Linked DNA regions of Homo sapiens. The protein of the gene in region 5 purifies or fractionates together with the protein of the main gene of each other region. This does not show direct contact. Each region holds a gene or a part of one and is shown on either strand. Other genes may lie near its edges.

Region 1 (3,500 bases), on a different chromosome or scaffold from region 5:
AAGCTGCAGGGTGGCAGGAGAATGGTGAGTGCCATTAGAGGAGCTGGGGCTCACCTCTGGGAACCTCACAGGATTCAGATCCTGCAGGTCATTGCAGGGCCCTGCTGGTGGCCGGTGGTCCTACCTGAAGTGACCAGGAGGGTGATTTGAAGGCACAACCCCAAAGAGACACAGATCCCCTAGTTGGGGTCTAAGGGCCACTGTCCACTTAGCTCTGCCAGGGAAATACAGATCCTTTGCAGCGACACCCCATTCGGGGAAGAGAGCGGAGCTTTGAAGACTTCGTTCTGCCTGCAGAAGCGCCGGCAAGGGGGATGATGCACGGTAAAGTTAGAACAGCAGCACTGTGTCTGGGCACAGTGATCAGCCCTGATCTCAGGTGATCCGTCCGCCTCAGCCTCTAGCACTTTGGGAGGCCGAGGCAGGCAGATCACCCGAGGTCAGGAGTTCGACACCAGCCTGGCCAACATGGCAAAACCCCACTTCTACTAAAAATACAAAAATTAGCTGGGCGTAGTGGCGTGCACCTATAATCCCAGCTACTCGGGAGGCTGAGGCACAAGAATCTCTTGAACCTGGGAGGCAGAGGTTGCAGAGAGCTGAGATCACACCACTGAGGCTCTGTCTCCAGCCTGGGAGACAGAGCGGGACTCCATCTCAAAAAAAAAAAAAAAAAAAAAAACAGCAGCACAGCACTCTGAGCACTGCTTAGGTCTGAGCTATGCCCTGAACGTCACTGAACGCTTTAGGAAATAATAATTGTCGTCCATGGGCAAAGGGCCAAGGAGGCGTCGCTCTGTGTCCCCTTCCCCACGAGGCTGTGAGACCAGCCTTCTGTACTGGCCCAGAGCCCTTCTCCTAGCAGATGAGCTTGGAGTGCCAGCCACACCCTGGCTACTTTTCCAAGGAATAGTCATGGGGTGACCGCCCCTTGCACTGGGCCACCAACTGTCTGCAGAGCAACCCACAGGCCAGCCTGACCATGCAGCTGACTTTTCAGGAAACCTGAACAGCCCAGGGGTGTCTTTTCTCCAGTGGGGCCACAGCTTACCAAGTAGAGAAAGAGTATATAACCAGGCAGAAAAGCAAGTGAAAACCTTTCCAACATTCAGAACAGTCTATGGTAAGTCCAGAGCAGCTGACAGCCTTATATGGGCCTTCTCTCCAATCCAGGCCTGGAGATTCAGCCCGTCAGCAAGATCCCTAATCCCAGGCTGCAAACTTGTTGGGGAACTTCATTTTCTTGGTCCTAGGCCAGCAGCCTTTCCCAGCTCCCTGGTGTCCCTCCAGAACCATGGCTGCTGAATGAGGGCATCTAGGGGGGCTCCAGCCAGAGGCCGTGAATGCCCCCCCTTCCTCGGCCAGCCCCCTATCCATGATGAGGTGCCTGGTGATTTTCAGGACACGCGACACTTGGCCTTAGTAAGCTGGCATCCCCATCCTGGCTTGTGACCTGGGGCAGTTCATTTTATTGCTCTGGGCTTCATTTTTCTCCCTCCTGAAACCAGCACAGCTTACACAACCACAGCACAGCTTACACACCCACTCCCCTCTGGGGCAAAGAAGTACAGCGTGTGGCAAATGGAATTCCATTGTGGCACTTATTCCCGTGAACTCGGGAGGGCGGGAACCAAGACGAAACCAGTCGGGGCAGAGGTAGGGCTCCTTTGAACACCTGGTGGAGTTATTTGGATATAATAAACTTTTATTGCAGGCCAGAGGCCCTACCGGATTTTGTTCTCCTTCACACAAACGGGCGTGGTGAGTGCTGTTTGCAGGACAGAGCTGGTGTAGGGACGGGAGCCTGCTGTGTCCTCTCCCTGGGCTAAACTGAGAGCCCTGGTGAACAGTGAAAAACACTGTTCCATTTCTTGTGTAAAGGACACGCTGGCATATGCTACTGCTGCTACACCAGCCTTTCTTTTTTTTTTTTTTTTCTGGGCCTGTAATGTCAGCCTGAAAAAAGCAGAATAAACAACCCTTAAGCAAATTAATACCGTAATCCTAGAGAAGGCTCTGTGATGGATAACTTTTTCCATGAGTCAGACAGCAAGCTAACATTCGCTTGTTTTATAAAGGGGAACACTTTGTCATTTATCAACAGCAGCCTTGGCTAACAAGCTTGGGGTGTAAGCGATGAGTAGCTTCTCCAAAGGGAAGCACTGAATAGCCCTTGTAAAAACCAGCCCGAGCCCTGCAGTGGTTCCGTGACTTCCATGGGGCCTGCTTCCAGATGAGCTGTCCTGTAGCTTGCCGGCTGCTGCTGAGTCCCCGAACACAGCTGCCAGGGGATCGCTTCCCTTTTCCCGTGACTAGAGAGGGCTAAAGCTAGGCACTGCAGATCCGTAGCCATCCACGCAAGATTTAAAGCCCACAAAACCCGTGATCCTAAAATCTTCCTCTGCTGAGCCCTAGCATGAATATTTAATATTAACCACAAGCCCCATTAGGAGCATGTTCTCTTTCTCTGCGTGGGAAATACTTTCTCTTTAGTAGCTCACTTGCAGCTAATCCAATTCCCTTGGCCTCTGCCAGGACCGCCAGGTTCAAGAACTGGGATCTGGACTTAGAGAAAACATGTCTGCCTGTTCGTTCCCACTCCACGGTATTTCATGTGTTTGTAAATCCTTTTGATCTCTTAATACCTCCTGTTTATTCAGCCCCTGCTATGGAGCTCAAAGGAGTGACCTCATCCTTCCTTGACTTGCCCCCATTAGATGGGGAGAAACTGGGGCCTTTCTACTGTCCCCATGTGAGAGAACCAAAGGAGGCTGCCCTCTTACCCAGTGCTCCATGCATGGGGCTGCACAGCCTCCCCAAGCCCAGCTTGTGGCCTCAACAGCGTTTGACTGCCCAGGAAGATGCGACCTGACTTGAGGACAAGCTACATTTGTCCCCTTGCCCAGTGTGGGCCAGGCATGCACAAGAACAATACCCATATTCTTGCAACATGGGGTTTGCCAGTAACCCCACGTGACTTGACCTCACGACGGATGTGGGGGAGAAGGGGGAGGAACAAACGCTCTCTGTGTGCATTCTGCTCTGTGCTGCCCGTGAGCCTCAGCTGCGGGCAGACTGCATGGTTTGTTGCCTGCAAAGTCTCACCCCTGCTCGGGGTGCAGATGTGGGACAGTGAAGTCAGCGTGTCACCTGCCGAGGGTTCTCATCGAGTGTCCTGCTGTGTATTGTGGGGAAACATCACAGACTTTCTCTCTCGCGTGCGTGTTTTCAGCCCCTACATCAAGGATATCTCTCTGGTCCCAGTGAAAGGACAGTAGGGATACAGCAGCAGGTTAAAATTCACCATGGTGATTATTAATGATTGTTACTCATGCTTGGTATAATTGAGATTAACAACAGCTAGCATTTGTTGTGCACATGTGGATTATATCACTTAATCCTCACAGCAATCCTGGAAGTGGGCATTATTGCTACTCCTGTTTTACAGATAGAAAACTGTTGCACAGAGAGGTTAAGTGGCTTCCCCAGAGTCACAGATC
Region 2 (2,389 bases), on a different chromosome or scaffold from region 5:
CAAGAAGGATAGTTTGGTTTTGTTTCCTACAATTAATGCTTCGTCAATCATGGCTTTTCATATTTAAGGTGGTATTAACTTACAAAATAAGGCAAAAGAACCATTAGGTATGATTGCTCCCAAAGTCCTCATAGCAAATGAACTCATGATTTCCTTACCTCCATCTTCATGGCGATCATAACCATGAGGGAATCTCCCGCTTTCACTTTGTCTCCAGCTTTGACAAACACCTTGAGATTCAGTGTGACAGGTTAATATTTGAAAACACAGAGGTCCTAGATATGTTCATCTGCTTCATTATAGTAACCATTTTACTGTCTATATATACTCATAACATCATGTTGCAAACCATGAATATAAACAATAAAACATAAATAAAAAGAAAAAAAACAACACAGAGGTCCTTTGTGGTCCACAGATTTGGTATATAAACTTACAGAGCAGAAGTAGAGCCCATGTGGTTGTGCCATCTGCCAAATGCACTGGTCAAATCAGAGGCCTACAGCCCAAATATACAGGTCAAATCTGAGACCTACAGCCCAAATGCACTGGTCAAATCAGAGGCCTACAGGTCAAATGCACTGGTCAAATCAGAGGCTTACAGCCCAAATGTACAGGTCAAATCTGAGACCTACAGCCCAAATGTACTGGTCAAATCAGAGGCCTACAGCCCAAATGTACTGGTCAAATCAGAGGCCTACAGCCCAAATGTACTGGTCAAATCAGAGGCCTACAGCCCAAATGCACTGGTCAAATCAGAGGCCTACAGGTCAAATGTACTGGTCAAATCAGAGGCCTACAGCCCAAATGTACTGGTCAAATCAGAGGCCTACAGGTCAAATGCACTGGTCAAATCAGAGGCCTACAGCCCAAATGCACTGGTCAAATCAGAGGCCTACAGGTCAAATGCACTGGTCAAATCAGAGGCCTACAGCCCAAATGCACTGGTCAAATCAGAGGCCTACAGCCCAAATGTACTCGTCAAATAAGAGGCCTACAGGTCAAATGCACTGGTCAAATCAGAGGCCTACAGCCCAAATGCACTGGTCAAATCAGAGGCCTACAGCCCAAATGCACTGGTCAAATCAGAGGCCTACAGGTCAAATGCACTGGTCAAATCAGAGGCCTACAGCCCAAATGCACTGGTCAAATCAGAGGCCTACAGGTCAAATGTACTGGTCAAATCAGAGGCCTACAGCCCAAATGTACTGGTCAAATCAGAGGCCTACAGGTCAAATGCACTGGTCAAATCAGAGGCCTACAGCCCAAATGCACTGGTCAAATCAGAGGCCTACAGGTCAAATGCACTGGTCAAATCAGAGGCCTACAGCCCAAATGTACTGGTCAAATCAGAGGCCTACAGGTCAAATGCACTGGTCAAATCAGAGGCCTACAGCCCAAATGCACTAGTCAAATGAGAGCCCTACAGGTCAATCTGGCATTGCTGGCACTGTCGTCCATGGGTAGCACTGCTTAGTCCCCTGTCCCCACCCACAAAACCACTTAGTTTTACTTGAATCACATGAATATACTCCATGTATTTTGAAATCCTTTCATTTTTTTCAAGAATGTAGAAACAAGACACATTGCCAGTAGGGAAGGACTAATATACTTAAATGTCTTCCCCAGAGAGGGAAGAGGGATGAGGGTCTTGACTGGTTTTCTTGTTTTGGGGTTGTCTAGGGCTAAGTATAGTAAGTGTGTTTGAAGTCTTCAGAGCCCTGTGTAGTAAATGTGAAGACAATCTTCATGCAACAGAATCAAACTTATTAGCAACCCCAGAAAGAGATTTCTATTTTCTTTTGTATACATATAAATGGACTCATAGATCCTATATGGTCTCACTTTCGTTTTGGTTAACATGGCTACTAAGTGGGAGACTAACAGAGTTGTGCAGAGATGCCTGCACTATGAGAGGCCTGTGGGAACTGAAATCAAATGAGCTAAAGGCAGATCCAGGTCTCCTAGCTCATACCCACTTGGGGTAAATATTTCCAAACGAGAATAGTGGCTGAAATCACCCACACTATTTAAGTAGTTATTTTCTTCTTCTTCTTTTTTTGTTCCAAGCATATACAGTTGAGTTTTTATGATTTAAGTGTATTTGAGGAGACTCTACTGTATTCAAGTATATAAAAGGAGACTACGGATACTGATCTATCACCATTTGATGTTATATCAGTATGTGCTAGGGTCTAAATGTCTATATCCCTCCAGAATTCATTTGTTAAAATCCTGACCTCCAGGATGATGGTATTTGGAGGTGGGGCCTTTAGCAGGTGATTAGGTCATGAGGGATCTGGCCTCATGAAAGAGATTAGTGCCCTTATGAAAGAGGCCTGAAGAGAGGTCCCTTGTCCCTTCCACCACGTGAGGACACAGAGAAAAA
Region 3 (4,282 bases), on a different chromosome or scaffold from region 5:
AGAATAAAAGGACACAAGGAAGGCCTAAGGAGAATGAAGGGAATGAGAGTAATATGGGGGAATTTTCTATGTAAAGGGAATTCTCTTTCCCAAATACTCTCTGTTAAGATTTCCAAGTATCTGTCTTGTGGGTACACCAGGATAGCAGAGGGAAGGGACTAATGCCACGGTGCTACTCCACCTTAACTGACCCTCCACGCTGAAGCCCCTCATCTCTATTTCAACTCTAGCATTCATTCTCCTTGCTACCAGGACAAAGGTCAAATCATACCTGGAGCTGGGAAACAAAGCCCTCTCAAATCTGAATATGTGTTTCACGAGGAGAGAGAGAGCAGCAGAGGGGACCACGAGGAAGGCAGAGATTCCCTGACGACCTCATGCCTTTGTACACCACTCGCCTTTACTCTCTGGATTAAACAGCATTAGGGAGACAAGAGAGGAAACACATGTGGTGTCTGGAGACCTGTGCCTGCCTGTTCCAGTCCCACACCCAGTCATCTCACCACACCCTTCACCTCACTTTACCTTCTCCTCCAGCACAGGAACTAGGAACTACGGAGAGAGAAGCCAAGGGAGAGGAGGAGGAGGAAACTAACGATTCCCTGCCCACCCCCACACCCAGCACCACCAACAGGTGGGCAAGCTTGCCGAGAAAACGCAGAGGGCATCCTGTGAGCAGCAAACACATCTGAGCCTGGAAAAGACGCAGAGAAGTAAAAGATCAAAGGTGAGGTAGGGGACGTGGAGGAAAGTGGGAGAGACAAAAGGAAAACAAAAAGTGGGGGATCATGAGAAGCAGAGGCAGGAAATAACAGGGCTTCAGACTTGGGTGCAGAATGGAGGTGGAGGACACAGCACAGATGGCATAAGAATTAATATTTCCTTGGTTCCTCCCAGGGAGTCCTTTCTCAACTTTGTAAGGCGTGCACAGAGGTGGCAAGGAAGCACCTTGCTCCTCTTCCTGGTTCTAAGGAAAAGGTGACCTTGAGCCAGTGGGTGTCTTTCCCAGTGCCTGCCTCTAACCCTGTGCTTTCTCCATATCCTCCTCTGGTATCTGTGTTTATTCCGCGGTTTCCCCGCGGCTGCCCCCGGGAGACCGAAGAGGTGGCTGGGGCAGGCCGAAAGCAGAGGAAAGGTTGGGCAGTGTCACCCTTGCACACCCACAGGGTAGACGGATCGAGTTTCAGCTTAAACCGAGGGGTGTGGGGGAAGGGTGTTGGGTTCAGCTAGTCCACGTGGGTGCTGTCCTCCACTTGGTGCTGAAATCTGGGCGGCCACATCCCCGGGGCGGGAGGGGGCTACATCCCCGGCTTTAGACGCGCGAGTCTCAGGTCCCGCTAATTACCTGGCGGGTGCTGCCCACCCCTGCCCTCGCGCACCTAGCGCGGTGGCAGGCGGGAAGGCGGGGCCTGGGGGAGCCCCACCCCTGGAGACTGCGGCTGGGGCCTCCCTCTCCTCCGCCCGCCCGCCTGCCACTAGCTCATTGCGCCTCTCCTGCAGTCTGATTGGCACCGGCTCCCATTCCGGCTCCAGCCTCCAATCCGACCCCCATTTCGGCTGCAGCCTCGGACCTAGCTCCGGCCCTCGGTCTATCCGGTTGCATCCTCCCTCCCTGTTCCGGATCTTATCTTGCGCCAGCGCCTACTCCAGGATCCCGTAGCCAGACCTCAAGCCATGGCTGGTCCCTTCTCCCGTCTGCTGTCCGCCCGCCCGGGACTCAGGCTCCTGGCTTTGGCCGGAGCGGGGTCTCTAGCCGCTGGGTTTCTGCTCCGACCGGAACCTGTACGAGCTGCCAGTGAACGACGGAGGCTGTATCCCCCGAGGTAACAGTGCCTGAGGCGCGGGAGGAGGCGGGGGCAGGAGGTGATGGGAACGAAGGTGCGGGTAGAAGTGAGAATCCGGGCAACAGAGAAGGGCTATAATCACGAAGGCCCTGGAGCTGGAGGGCTGTGCAGTCTGCAGACCTCAGTGGGGTGGGGGTGGGGGCCAAAACCATAAAGCAAGAACATTCCTGGGGACCTGCCAAGACCAGCTCTGGCCCTACGAGTTCTAGCTGCACTGGCTGCCCAAATCCCTAATTGTAAAGCCAGGAACTATCCTTTTCGCTCCCCTCCATCTCCTTCCCTCATTTCCTCAATTCCTCTCCTTAGGCTTTTCCCCTCCTCCATCCGTAGTGTTGTGTCATGGGAGGAAAGAACTGAGCAGATCTGAAGAAACTGAGCTGGCCAGCCAGAGGCAACTAGAACTATTAGGAAAGCATAGACTCTGAAAGTCCCTAAAGAGATTACCAAGGTTTACCCTCTTTCTAATTCCCCCTCCTCCCGCGGAGCAAAGCCAGACATGGCCAACTGGACAGCTCCCAGGTAACTGCACTAGGTCTAGGCGTCTGTGCCCTCCCTCCATGGTTACTGGGTACCCCCTCCCCAGCGCTGAGTACCCAGACCTCCGAAAGCACAACAACTGCATGGCCAGTCACCTGACCCCAGCAGTCTATGCACGGCTCTGCGACAAGACCACACCCACTGGTTGGACGCTAGATCAGTGTATCCAGACTGGCGTGGACAACCCTGGCCACCCCTTCATCAAGACTGTGGGCATGGTGGCTGGAGATGAGGAGACCTATGAGGTAGGGGGTCCCCAGAGTCTCCCTGATGATCCAATTCATCTTCCCAGTAATCCCAGCTCCTTTCCCCTAAAGACCTCTCACTTTCCCCCAAGACTCTGAGCCCCCCATACTTAAGTTTTCTGAACCAGTGAAATCAATGCACAATTGAAGTCTGGGGAGGGATTCCCTCTCCTTAACCATCTCTCCCTCTTAACTCCCCTTAGGTATTTGCTGACCTGTTTGACCCTGTGATCCAAGAGCGACACAATGGATATGACCCCCGGACAATGAAGCACACCACGGATCTAGATGCCAGTAAAGTGAGTTCAAATATCCCACTTCTGATTTGCATTGCCTGTGTACAACACTCTGTATCTCCAACCCCTTCACCTTATTTCCTGACTCATGGTCATTATACAGCTGAGCTTTTAATCTTAATGTAAGGAAAGAATCATATCTTAAGGGGCAGCATATATGGAGATGGAAGGATAGATAAGAATGACCATGACCCAAGGTGGGTGGTTTGGGGAAAGGTCTGCAATGCCCCCTTCAATTCCAGTGCTTTCCCAAAGGGCCTCTTCTTCCAATGCATGCAGGAAGAATGCACAAAGAGTCCTCTAATGCCTAAGGAAGGTCTCTCCTTTCCCAGGGGCCCTCAGTTCCCACCGTGTTTCTGTGACTTACATTCATTTCCCTTATCTCCCAGATCCGTTCTGGCTACTTTGATGAGAGGTATGTATTGTCCTCTAGAGTCAGAACTGGCCGAAGCATCCGAGGACTCAGTCTGCCTCCAGCTTGCACTCGAGCAGAGCGACGAGAGGTGGAACGTGTTGTGGTGGATGCACTGAGTGGCCTGAAGGGTGACCTGGCTGGACGTTACTATAGGCTCAGTGAGATGACAGAGGCTGAACAGCAGCAGCTTATTGATGTGAGGGCCTTAAGAGGGTGCTGGTTGGTGGGAGCAGATGGGGAAGGCTGGGCCAGATGAGACATGGGCTCTGAAAGGCCCAGGGGCCACCATGAAGATTCTTAACCCAAGTCCCGTTACTCTTCCCAGGACCACTTTCTGTTTGATAAGCCTGTGTCCCCGTTGCTGACTGCAGCAGGAATGGCTCGAGACTGGCCAGATGCTCGTGGAATTTGGTATGAAGCTGCTCATTACCTCTTTTGTCTTCATGCCCTCATAAATGCTTTTTTTCCCTCTATCTCTCCCAATTCTTGCCTTGCCTCTTGATCACTGTCCCTCTCCGGCCCTCAGGCACAACAATGAGAAGAGCTTCCTGATCTGGGTGAATGAGGAGGATCATACACGGGTGATCTCCATGGAGAAGGGTGGTAACATGAAGAGAGTGTTTGAAAGATTCTGCCGAGGCCTCAAAGAGGTTAGAGAAGACTATGTAGGGGAGCTAGGTGGGAGGACATAAGGAAAACCAAAGAGTAGCATAAATAGATTATGTAATTTACCAACCAACCCAGGACATGTCTTATAGTAAAAAGGACTATCTAGGACTCACTCCAGGACTAAAGGTGTAAACCAGCTGGGACCATACTGGGAAAACCAGGACATGTGGTCACACTAAGATTAGGAAAAGAAAGAGTGTCAGGAATCTTAGGAAGTGAACAAGGCTGTTGACAGAGAGTGCAAAGAAGGAATAAATGAGATGGCACGTCAGTGCC
Region 4 (3,500 bases), on a different chromosome or scaffold from region 5:
AAACTTAAGATTTTAAACTTTTTCAAGTTTTGAAAAAAATTGAAATAGTATTTCTTGATTTATACTATAAAACAGTATTTGAGCTACAAAGTAGAAAGGACAGTATATAGAAAACCTTTTTTAAAAAGTGTCTACACAATGTTGCTAAGCTATTTATATTTTGAACTCATAACTACCAATCTTCCATGTCTTCTCGAATTACAGCAATTATTTATTGGTATCTTACCCTAATTTAAAGTTGGCATTTGAACAAGTGGGTTTCTGATTTTGGGAACCCAAGTTGTCATGACACAGAATCAGTTTTTGCATGCAGAAGACATGTAAGGTACTACAGCCCAATTGAGCTGCTGCCAAAGACAGAATAAAGAGGCTTGGCATCTCTCATATACTTGACACCTAAAGGGTACAGAGGCTCTAAAATTCCTAGTCCCTGTAGGCACACTCTCAGTCTAGACAACCTGATTTCTCACACTTTAAAAATGCATCACGACACCCTATTGTTATCATTTCATCCACACAGCTTCGGCTAGTGACAGAAGAACCTGTTCTTTAAGCACATTTCAATGGGCTAAAGCTCCCACTCCAAGATTCCATTAAAACAATGTAACACTTGAAAAGAACTATGAGGCACTATGCTGAACTCTACTTGTGTCTTCAACGCTTTGTGTGGTTCCCTCTAAATTCACACGGAGCTACCTGAGATCTAACTTTCACAAAAAAATTTAAAATCCGCAAACTATTTAAATTATATTGAACTAATTGTATTCTTTATGGATTTCTACTTTTGTATGGCAATATGGATCACCTGTGAGTTTTTGAAACCTATTTAGAAAAGCTAGAAATGCTTTGGAGAAAGATGTCACTATTGCCTTTTACAAATTTCTTATTTTACTGGTAAAATAGAGATAAATAATTTATAAATAATAATTCAAAAAACTAAATCACATAGGTATGAAAAGCCTTCAAGCTGGCACCTGAAGAACCTCAAGACTCACCAGTTAATAATTATCTGTAAATTCTAATAAAACAAGCTACTCTATAAGTAATATACACAGATTTATTGAATTTTAAAACTTAATTGTTGAATAGTTGGGTCAAGTATGAAACCTATGCTTCCATTATTAATGTCATTATCCTAATAAAGTTTCAGAAATACAACCTTATGTGCAATATGCTATTTTAATAAATGATAACTAATAAGTCAATGATAATTCACAGATTAAGGGCATTCAAGTCAAAATTTGCTATTGGAAAGATGCATGTCATAATTCCAAAGTTCATTCTTTCAACACCATATCTTCAACAATTTTAAATTTTGGAGGAGATGATAGCTGACCTGCCATTTCACAAGTCTACATAAATGAAGAGAAAATTTAAAAAATCACTATGAATGTACCAGTATATGTATATGAACTTTATTCTTTCAAATACCAATTTCCATGATAAAATACTAGTTTTCCATATTAAAACTGTATGATTCGGTTATCAACTGTCTCCATTTATCTTCTGTGATTTCAACTTTTTTTTTCTTTAACAAAGGAAGCAGGGAACAAGCAATGGGAAGTTGGTGTCAAAATGCAGAAAAACCTCCCAGCAAGCTTCTTGCAACCACCCAGGATTTAGAGTCTTGCTGGCCGCTCTCTTTTCAATACCAGAATTTCACACATTTCAATGACTATTATGACTTCAAAGAATCAAATTTTCATCATTGTCCGTCATCTGCCGGTTGATTTGTATAAAGGAGTTCTTCTGCATGCACTCCCAACAAAAGCCTCCTTACTTTTGTGGCTATATATCAAGTTTAAAAGTTTTGTTTGTGACAGTTGTGTCTTTGGTAAATTAGGGCAACACTGAAGGAGTGCAGCTGCTCCACAGGAACCTCCTTTTTGGCACCATTTCACTTAAATAAAAACTGAATAATTAGCTTCTGCCTTTATTAAACCACAAAAATGCCACTGGCCTTAGTAATTACTTCCGGTTGCCCCACCCACTTAACCTTAACAGTTTACACTTGTCATGAAGAGAAATAAATGTAAGGTTTTTGCACTTTGGGATGCATTTTTGCTAGATCTCTCAGTACGCCCAGAAAAGCCAAAACTTTTATCATGCTTTTCCTAGTAAGTTCACTAAATTGCATGTTAGTATGGATCAATGCTGAACAGTTTTAGTAGAGCACATATTGAAACATTAAAAATACTGTTTATAGAAACTTGTTCTACCGCAGACTATTAGTTATTTACAGCTAAAACTAATCTAAATTTGATGACTGAGTTTACATTCTATTTCAACCATAAAAGATGTTCAAAGAAAAGCAAGTCTTAGACCTGTAATAAAAACTTTCTTTCAACTAACCCACAGATACTTAAAGCAAGAAACTCATTAAAGGTTTCATAAATAAGGACATTTTACAAAATAAATTTTACAGTTTAAAAAATATAAAGAGTTGGCAGATAGCATTATCATATCTATTTACTTACTGTGGAAGAACTTAAACACTTCTAAAAACTTAGGGGCCATATAGATTCAGATACAATAAAAAACATAAAAATAAATTTGAGTTGTGCCATTAGAACCAACTTTTGTTTGTTTGTTAAAGTAACAAATTGATGTTGGAGTCCAACCAGGCAATGAATCAAGTGTTGGAATGTGACATCTGTTATATTTTGCATACTGGGCAAAACTATCATTGAGCCAAAAGTGTAGTTTGAATGAACTGCTGTGGATAATATGATAGAAATAGTTCATGCAAATGATGCTACTAATCATACAAGGAGTACAAAACTAATAATTAGAGACATGTTTTTCAATCTCACAAACTATTTTTACCACTCCTAGATCCTTCTGAGCAGGAAAGCCTTGGCTAAAAGCAAAGGGCTGAGTCAAAACTGGGTTGGAATCCCAGTTCTCAACTTTGGGCAAATTAATAGACTCCTTTTTCATCATGTATGAAATCAGTTTGCTATACCAAAATGAGTACTAAATAACATATGTGAAGTGGTTACCTTCGGCAACAAAAAGAATGTTTCTCATTTATTCAACGTATTTTTTAGCACTTACTACATATTAGACACTGAACACAATGAGCAACAGTGAAAACATGATCTCTGTCCTCAAGAAAATAACAAACATTTTTTTAAAGGACATTCTCTGTCCAACCACACCAGCTCTCAGGGAAGTTTGTAATAAAGGTCCCGGTCTTTAAGGGGATTCTGTCATCTCAACCTTAGCTGGTCAGTCATATGGTTAATGTCACAGATTAATGTGTGTGTGATTACAGGCATGTCATATTCCATGGGAAACTGGAGATCCATAACCACTATAGCAACAAAGTCTTTTCTTTCTTTTTGCCTATCTTTGGAAAGGGCTATCTCCTCCAAATTTCATGTTAAAATTTGATCCCCAATGTTGGAAGTGGGGCCTAACGGGAGGTTTTTGGGTCATTGGAGCAGATCCCTCACAAATGGTCTGGTGCTGCCCTTGTGGTAATGGGTGAGTTCTTG
Region 5 (4,067 bases):
ACTGAAAGGAAACGTGAAAATGTCAGCAGTGGCTATCTCTGGGTAGTGGCCTTATAGCTTATTATTTTCTACTTTGTACTTTTCTACATTTTCCACAATGGAAACATGATTTTTCTGATTAGATAAGACCATTTTAGGATTTCAAGCAGCCCTGCTGAGATTGGAACCCTGGGTGCGCAGTGTTTGAAGGGACTGGGGAGAGCATGGCAGAAGGCCCTGGAGATCGGGGTCCCAGGCAGGGTCAAGGCCACACTGAGGCGCCAGCAGGGAGCACAGCCGCCTCCAGGATAGAGCACCCTGGCAGTTCTCACCCTCTAGCTCTTCCAGTTGTACCTCCCGGAGGCTTTCCTTGCCCAGCGCCCGGGCCACTTCTTCACATTGGCGCCGCCGCACAGGGTACTCGCTGGAGGCCAGGGAGTGGCGGACATTAGAGTTGGTGATGAGCACGGCCAGCTTGGGGTCCGAGAGTGGCACCAGGCTGGTCTCCAAGGACCTGGGGTGGAGTTACAATGGGGGAGATGACGAGGCCAAGCGTGTGCTTGCTGCGCCAGGCAGTGGGCACACTCCCACCCAGGAGCTGCTGAGTGCAGGGCGGGAGGGGACGAGGGGAGCGAGCCCAACCTGCAGTCAATGAGCAGCGCGTGGCCTTTCTGTCCCATAAGTGAGATGAACTGGTCCATGATGCCACAGGGCATCCCTGCGAAGCTGTGCTCGGCCTGCTGACACACCTGGGCGCGGGCAGCTATTGTGCCCGAGTCTGCAGTACAGGGTGAGGTGGGGAGGCTAGGGCTGGTGGAAGCAGCAGTGGCTTCAATGACACTCCAGGGAGAGTCCCTGCCACCCCCTCCATAAGGCATAGTAGAAGCTGGGACCACCTGGAGACCTCAGGGAAGGAGGGCTGGGTCAGGGCTGGGGCCTAGCTGGTACCTGGACAGAGCTGCTGGAGGAAGGTGTACGTGGCCACTTCCAAGGATGCTGAGCTGGACAGGCCACCCCCCAGGGGCACTGAGCTGACCACCACTGCACTGAAGCCAGGGAGGGGGGCAGCTGCAGGGGAAAGAACAGGTGATGGTAAGAGGGGCTGCCTGGGAGGATGGCACAGGAAGGGCAGGTGTCCTGGCGGGAAGGGCAGCAACGGCCTAGCAGCTGTTTCTAGGGTGTGTGTCTCAATTGTCAGAAGCCACCAACCTGCTGGGCCAAGGGACCCACTGCCCTCCATTTTCCCACCCTCTGAGGTTGCTGGGACACTTCTAATTGTCCTCCTGGTTTAGGGCTCTGGAGGGAAAAAAGGCTGGGGTTCAAATCCTGGCTCCTCCAATCAGGTCACGGGAAACCCAGGGCAAGTTCCCGACCTTCTGGGGGCATCAGTTTCCTCATCTGTACAATGGGATGCTCCACTCTACAAGCCTTCCCCACAGTGTATCAGACAAATGAATGGGCTCTGTGGCTGTGAGGTGGCACTCCTAGTATCAGTGAGGACTTGGCTCAGGCCTGGGCCCCATACCTGGGTAGTACTGAATCACTCCCTTGACATAGTTGGCCCACCGAGGAGTCCCAGGCTCCAGCGAGCGCTGGGCTGTGGGCAGTGGAAACTGCAGCCGCTGGGGCTCATCGGCACCCTCAGAGGTGGTGAGGAGAGACACCAGCCCATCCTTGCGGGGGCTGCCCACCAGCACCGTCATGAGCTCCAGAGCCTGGCAGGAGAGACAAGCAGTACGTGAGGCTTCCGCCAGCTGGAGTAAGCCTCTCCAATGACACTGCCTCCAGCCGAGGTTCTGATGCCTCCACAGTCATCAGGTTCTGAACCTCCAGGTTCAGCGTCGCAGGGAAGATCCTGAGGGCCAGCTGACCTTGGGGGCTTGAGCCCTGCCCCCTTAGGTCTTCAGGGGCGGGGCGGCTGCAGCTGGAGCACAGACCTGGACTCTGCCCTGAGCTGTGGGGCAAGGGGGAGAGCTAGCCCAAAGGGAAAACAGATCACTGGAGCTCCAAAGCCTTTACATTTTGGGGTGGCTCTGGACATCCTGTACCTGTGCACTCCCCAAGCTGCAGATGGGGCGGAAAGCGCCCCCCGCTGAAAGCTGGGAGTCCTCACTCCCAAGTCGCAGCCCCGCCAAGAACCTGCTGTGTGACCTCCAGCAGTTCACTGGGCCTCTCTAGGCCTCAGTTTCCTCCTCTGTAAATTGAACGGGCTGGGCCAGAAGGCTACGTTCGCCCAGGTCTGCGGTTGGGGCCCCACGGTGGCCGGAGGCGCGGAGTGTCCCCTTCTGCGTGGCACACAGGGCCTCACAGTTTAAGGGGAACATGCTCCCAGGTTGAAGGCGAGGAGCCCCAGCCCCCAGAGGGCGGGCTTGAGCCAAGAGGCGGCCGCGCACCCTCTCCCGGCCACTTCCTCGCTTCCTCCCTTCCAACGTGGGGAACAGCCTGTCCCGGGGACTCTTCCGTGCACCGGTGCTCCAGGCGCAGCTGCCCGCCCCACATCTCCCGCGGGAAGAACTCGCCCCCAGCGTCCCCGAGGCCCGCCCTCCTCGGCGGCCGGGACAGGCGGCGGCGGGCTAGGGGCTCCCCGTGCAGCCCCTCACCATAGGCAGCACCAGGCCCTGGTTGTAGTCCGTGTGTTCCCCGATGAGGTTGACGCGGCCCGGCGCTGACACGGCCAGCTCGGGCTCGGCCCCGAACTCCTCCCGGAAGGCTCGCCGGGCCTCGGCCAGCAGCTCCGCGACCTGGGGCTGTCTCAAAGCAGCCATGACGCGCGCCTGCAGCTCTGCACAGCTGCTCCGGCACAGCCCCGTCGGCGCGGGATGCTCGGGCGGGGCCCCGCGCGGGGGTGCGCACATTCCCGCCAGCCCCGCCCCGCGCCCGGACGCCCCGCCCCCAGACCTCAGCCGGTTCCGCCCCCACCCGCAACTCCCGTGGGAATCCAGCTGCTGGGTGGTGGGTGGCAGGGGCTAATGGTGCCGGGTGGGATACAGCGCCCCCGATGGTGTCCTTCCCTCTGGACTTCGGGAAGAACCAATGAGCACTCACTAGAGTGAGAATAGCCCTGAGTGGCACTTGGCATGACCAGGATTTCTGAGCTGCCCTTCCCTGGCGCTGGTGACTTTCTATGTGCCTCACCACCCACCACCACCCACACAGCCAGAGCAATGGAGCTGGCACCCGGTTGACCTGGGATTCCCAAAGGGATCCCCTAGGTCCCCAGGGCCAGCAGCTGTGAGAGGTCATCAGCCTCTGATCACCGGTCTCCAAGAGGGTGACCTGACACTCACTGTAAGTAGAGATAAAGACAGACAAGTTTGGGCCGGGCGCAGTGGCTCACGCCTGTAATCCCAGCACTTTGGGAGGCCGAGGTGTGCAGATCACCTGAGGTCGGGAGTTGGAGACCAGCCTGACCAACATGGAGAAACCCCATCTCTACTAAAAAATACAAAATTAGCTGGGCATGGTGGCTCATGCCTGTAATCCCAGCTACTCGGGAGGCTGAGGCAGGAGAATCACTTGAACCTGGGAGGCGGAGGTTTCGGTGAGCTGAGATCACACCATTGCACTCCAGCCTGGGCAACAAGAGCAAAACTCTGTCTCAAAAAAAAAAAAGACAAGTTTGGTGGTGACCAGAGAGTCAATTTTACAAGCTCCTTTTCTAGGTAATACGCAACAGCTCCTAGCAATGGAGAATTGGACTAGGGTGGCGGTGGCCAGCAGTGGGCCCAGCCCCTCCCTTAAGGACCTGCCACAGCTGTCCAGGTAGGTTGTGCTGTTGGCCCCAGCAGGCACTACTTCAGCCCAGAAGCCCTTGTCTCAGAGGCGTGGCCTTGTTCCCAGTCAGGCACTCTTCTCTTGCTATCCTGCATCCTAAACCTGCTGGCCGGCCCCAACTGCTGCCTTGATACCTGTCCACAGCTGCCCACCCTACATGGAACCTTGAAACTGAAAGACTGAAATGTAAGCAGCTTGCTTGGGGTTAGGGTGGGAGTAGTGTGGGGAGTTATGGCCAGGGATTTAGCTTGGGGCCTGCTCAGGGGTGTGCCCAAAGAGTGGGGAACTGCATTCCAAGGGCAATTCTGAAAACT
Region 6 (2,864 bases), on a different chromosome or scaffold from region 5:
CCCTAATTTGGTGCTGTCTGGCTCTTAGAGTGCACCCAGGGAGATCCCTGGAGTGAAGGAGTCTACAGGCAGAGCGCTAATTTCCAAGTATCAATGCTCCTGGAGAGCTGAGTTGTGATATTACTCCCATTCCCTGTCTATTATAGGTCGAAGTACAGCCTGGGGCCTCCAGGACTGGTCACGACCTTCCTGGTCCCTGGTATTGACTATCAGCTTCCTTGGCCACCTGCTATGAGCCTGTCTCTACAGTAGAAGGAGATTGTGGGGAGAGAAATCTTAAGTCATAATGAATAAAGTGCAAACAGAAGTGCATCCTGATTATTTTCAGAAGCTGATGAGGAATATGGGTAAAATGTTAATGCTTTCCACCCACCTGAGAATCAGTGTTCCTGGGTTGCCATATCTGGAGTCTCTTTCCATCATAAATAATCCCACTGCCTCTTTTCATTTCCTGAAGGCTGCTCCCTCCTCACCCCACCATTAGAAGTAACACAGACAGCTGCAGCATAGCAAGGAGTCTTTACTAGGATGGAGGCAGGGGATGCGAGGGCAGGTCCAGAGCAAGTAGAATGGGCCATCATTAGAATGAGCAGAACTCCTTGGAATCTTGAGTCATCAGCTGGCGATGGGGAGTTAATGCTTGGTGTGGATGACAGGTGTGGGGATGCGGATATCCTGGCCTCTCTCCAGACGCCGTTCACAATCAATCAAATAGTTTACTCCATCGATGACCAGTTGCACCAGCTCCACCTGAAGGACACTAATCTTTGATCTCTGCTTCCTACAGTCTGAGTTTTTCTTTATCACTGACTGACTTGCCTGCTCATTTCCAATTGCCTCCCCACTCAACCTGAATTTCATTTCAGATTATGTTACATCCCGGAGGCTCACTCACTGCCATATTTCAGCCCCCACAGACCTATACCTCTCCTCATCCTAATCCCTTAGGATCTCACCTCTGATTTGCCTAGTCGGTCCAAATTAGAAATATCAAAGACACCGCCTGTGGCAGCAGTGTCCACTCCTCCAGTACCACGCTTTTGGAGTCTTAGGTTCTCCAGGATCTTTGGGAAGCGGCTATCCTAGAGAGGAGATAGGGATTGGGAGCAGGGTCAATAGAGGCAGAGACTAGTCCTACCTGAAAGAGCCCTGAACCTGCTCAGAGCTCTGTCTCCTGAACTTTTTTTTTTCCTTTTTTCTTTTTTTTTTTTTTTAGACAGGGTCTCTCTCTGTCACCCAGGCTGGAGTGATCACAGCTCACTGAAGCCTCGACTTCCCAGGCTTAAGTGATCCTCTCACCTCAGCCTCCACTACACCCAGCTAACTTTTGTATTTGTAGTAGAGATGGGGTTTCACCAGGTTGCCCAGGCTGGTCTTGAACTCCTGGGCTCAAATGATCTGCCTGCCTTGGCCTCCCAAGTGTTGGGATTAGAGGCATGAGCCACTGTGCCTGGCCTGTCCTCTGACCCTTTAGCCACAACATGTTTGGCTCCTCTCCAAAGGGTCCACTCCCTCCCCATCCACAACCCACCCTTCCTTACTCACACCCCTCTGTAACCCCACAACTCCTTTACTTTGCTTAGCAGGGGCAGTTTGATGTGCACTCCTGCCCGAAGTCCAGTGCCCAGGTTAGATGGACAGGTCAAGATGTATCCCAAACGCTCATTCCACATGAACTCCCAGCCACGTTCTTGGATAAGTCTCTCCACCTGAGTCCACAAAGTTTTTATTAATGAAAAATCAGGGATATTTCATTAACCCTGGACCCTCCCTTAGCTAGACCCACAAGAACACTAGAAATTTGTCTAGAATAGAAACTTGGCTGTGAATGAATGACATTGGTCTTTTTTTAAATGAAAAAGGTTTGTTATTGTTTTCATGCATGCATGATGCAAAATTATGATGTGCATAATAATGAGATTGTGAAAAAATATCTTATGTGGAAGAAGAAAACTCGAAGGCGTGGTGTATTAAGGATGATCTAGGGAAATGAACAGAGGTGGTAAACTGAACTGAGAGAGGACTGATTATTCAATGAGGTCTGCATGCATCGATTATCTTTGCTTTGCTAATGAGCCTAGAGCTTGGAAGGGTCCTTTCAGACAGAAGATGAAGGTGTAAGCTTTGCCAGGAAGAGGTGAGATAACGTTCTATTAGCTGTGAACGGAGCACCTGTGTGAATGCAGAGAAAGATGAAAACAGAGCAGGAAAGCCAGATTCATAGGAATAGGGGACAGGGGGAAGGCATTTTGCTTCCATTAACCATGTAGTCATGAAGATGACTATTAGAGTTCAAGAGACAAGGGATCTAGCAGAGTGATGATCACAAAGACCACTATCCAACATGAGTAAAGGGATCCTGTTTGTAGTTCAGAAGGAACCATGCCACCAGGGATATCTTATGTGCTGAACATGGGGGGAAACTCTTCCATCCAGAATAATATTGCAGCTAACACTTTAACACTTATTAAGCACTTACTGTGGACCAAGTACTTTACCTGTATTTCACTTAATCCCCACAACAACCTAAAATGTAGAAAATCTCATTATCCCAATTTTACAGATGAGGAAACTGAGGCATATAATTTAAAGGTACTTCCCTACCCACTCATAGTCAGAATATGTTATCTATTACTTGCCAAAAATAGTAGAAACTTCTCAGAATCTAAAAGAGGAGCTCTTTTTCTTTGCAAACCTAAAATAGAACTGTATGTTTGAGAACATACAGTAAGAATTGAATTGAGTTTATGGGGATTTCTAATGTAGACTTGAATACGGAGACCCAATCCATGTAGGATTGATGATTCAGTTCAACCTCTCATCTAGAGCCACATATTCTAGAACTCGAACCATTCTATCCTCCA

Evidence for each region.
Region 1: the proteins of GALK1 (region 5) and CD9 purify together in Homo sapiens (co-immunoprecipitation; one study listed by IntAct). This does not show direct contact.
Region 2: the proteins of GALK1 (region 5) and MCCC1 purify together in Homo sapiens (affinity purification with a luminescence readout, with the first as the bait; one study listed by BioGRID). This does not show direct contact.
Region 3: the proteins of GALK1 (region 5) and CKMT1B fractionate together in Homo sapiens (co-fractionation; one large-scale study listed by BioGRID). This does not show direct contact.
Region 4: the proteins of GALK1 (region 5) and NDUFS4 fractionate together in Homo sapiens (co-fractionation; one large-scale study listed by BioGRID). This does not show direct contact.
Region 6: the proteins of GALK1 (region 5) and CKMT1A fractionate together in Homo sapiens (co-fractionation; one large-scale study listed by BioGRID). This does not show direct contact.

What each region holds. Positions count from the first base shown.
Region 1 is NC_000012.12:6,227,900-6,231,399, forward strand, and holds part of CD9 (CD9 antigen), read left to right. Parts: intron 1-3,500. UniProt on the Homo sapiens protein: Integral membrane protein associated with integrins, which regulates different processes, such as sperm-egg fusion, platelet activation and aggregation, and cell adhesion.
Region 2 is NC_000003.12:183,017,108-183,019,496, forward strand, and holds part of MCCC1 (methylcrotonoyl-CoA carboxylase subunit alpha, mitochondrial isoform 1 precursor), read right to left. Parts: intron 231-2,389; coding exon 159-230; intron 1-158.
Region 3 is NC_000015.10:43,592,545-43,596,826, forward strand, and holds the start of CKMT1B (creatine kinase U-type, mitochondrial precursor), read left to right. Parts: upstream 1-1,482; 5' UTR 1,483-1,674; coding exon 1,675-1,823; intron 1,824-2,150; exon of another isoform or gene 2,151-2,334; coding exon of another isoform or gene 2,335-2,427; coding exon 2,428-2,626; intron 2,627-2,829; coding exon 2,830-2,925; intron 2,926-3,311; coding exon 3,312-3,533; exon of another isoform or gene 3,534-3,534; intron 3,535-3,662; coding exon 3,663-3,748; intron 3,749-3,863; coding exon 3,864-3,987; intron 3,988-4,282. UniProt on the Homo sapiens protein: Reversibly catalyzes the transfer of phosphate between ATP and various phosphogens (e.g. creatine phosphate).
Region 4 is NC_000005.10:53,640,639-53,644,138, reverse strand, and holds part of NDUFS4 (NADH dehydrogenase [ubiquinone] iron-sulfur protein 4, mitochondrial isoform 1 precursor), read right to left. Parts: intron 1-3,500. UniProt on the Homo sapiens protein: Accessory subunit of the mitochondrial membrane respiratory chain NADH dehydrogenase (Complex I), that is believed not to be involved in catalysis. Complex I functions in the transfer of electrons from NADH to the respiratory chain.
Region 5 is NC_000017.11:75,762,393-75,766,459, forward strand, and holds the start of GALK1 (galactokinase), read right to left. Parts: upstream 2,801-4,067; 5' UTR 2,745-2,800; coding exon 2,580-2,744; intron 1,695-2,579; coding exon 1,505-1,694; intron 1,048-1,504; coding exon 928-1,047; intron 758-927; coding exon 622-757; intron 494-621; coding exon 312-493; intron 1-311. UniProt on the Homo sapiens protein: Catalyzes the transfer of a phosphate from ATP to alpha-D-galactose and participates in the first committed step in the catabolism of galactose.
Region 6 is NC_000015.10:43,696,859-43,699,722, reverse strand, and holds the end of CKMT1A (creatine kinase U-type, mitochondrial isoform 1 precursor), read right to left. Parts: intron 1,710-2,864; coding exon 1,575-1,709; intron 1,083-1,574; coding exon 957-1,082; intron 751-956; coding exon 634-750; 3' UTR 501-633; downstream 1-500. UniProt on the Homo sapiens protein: Reversibly catalyzes the transfer of phosphate between ATP and various phosphogens (e.g. creatine phosphate).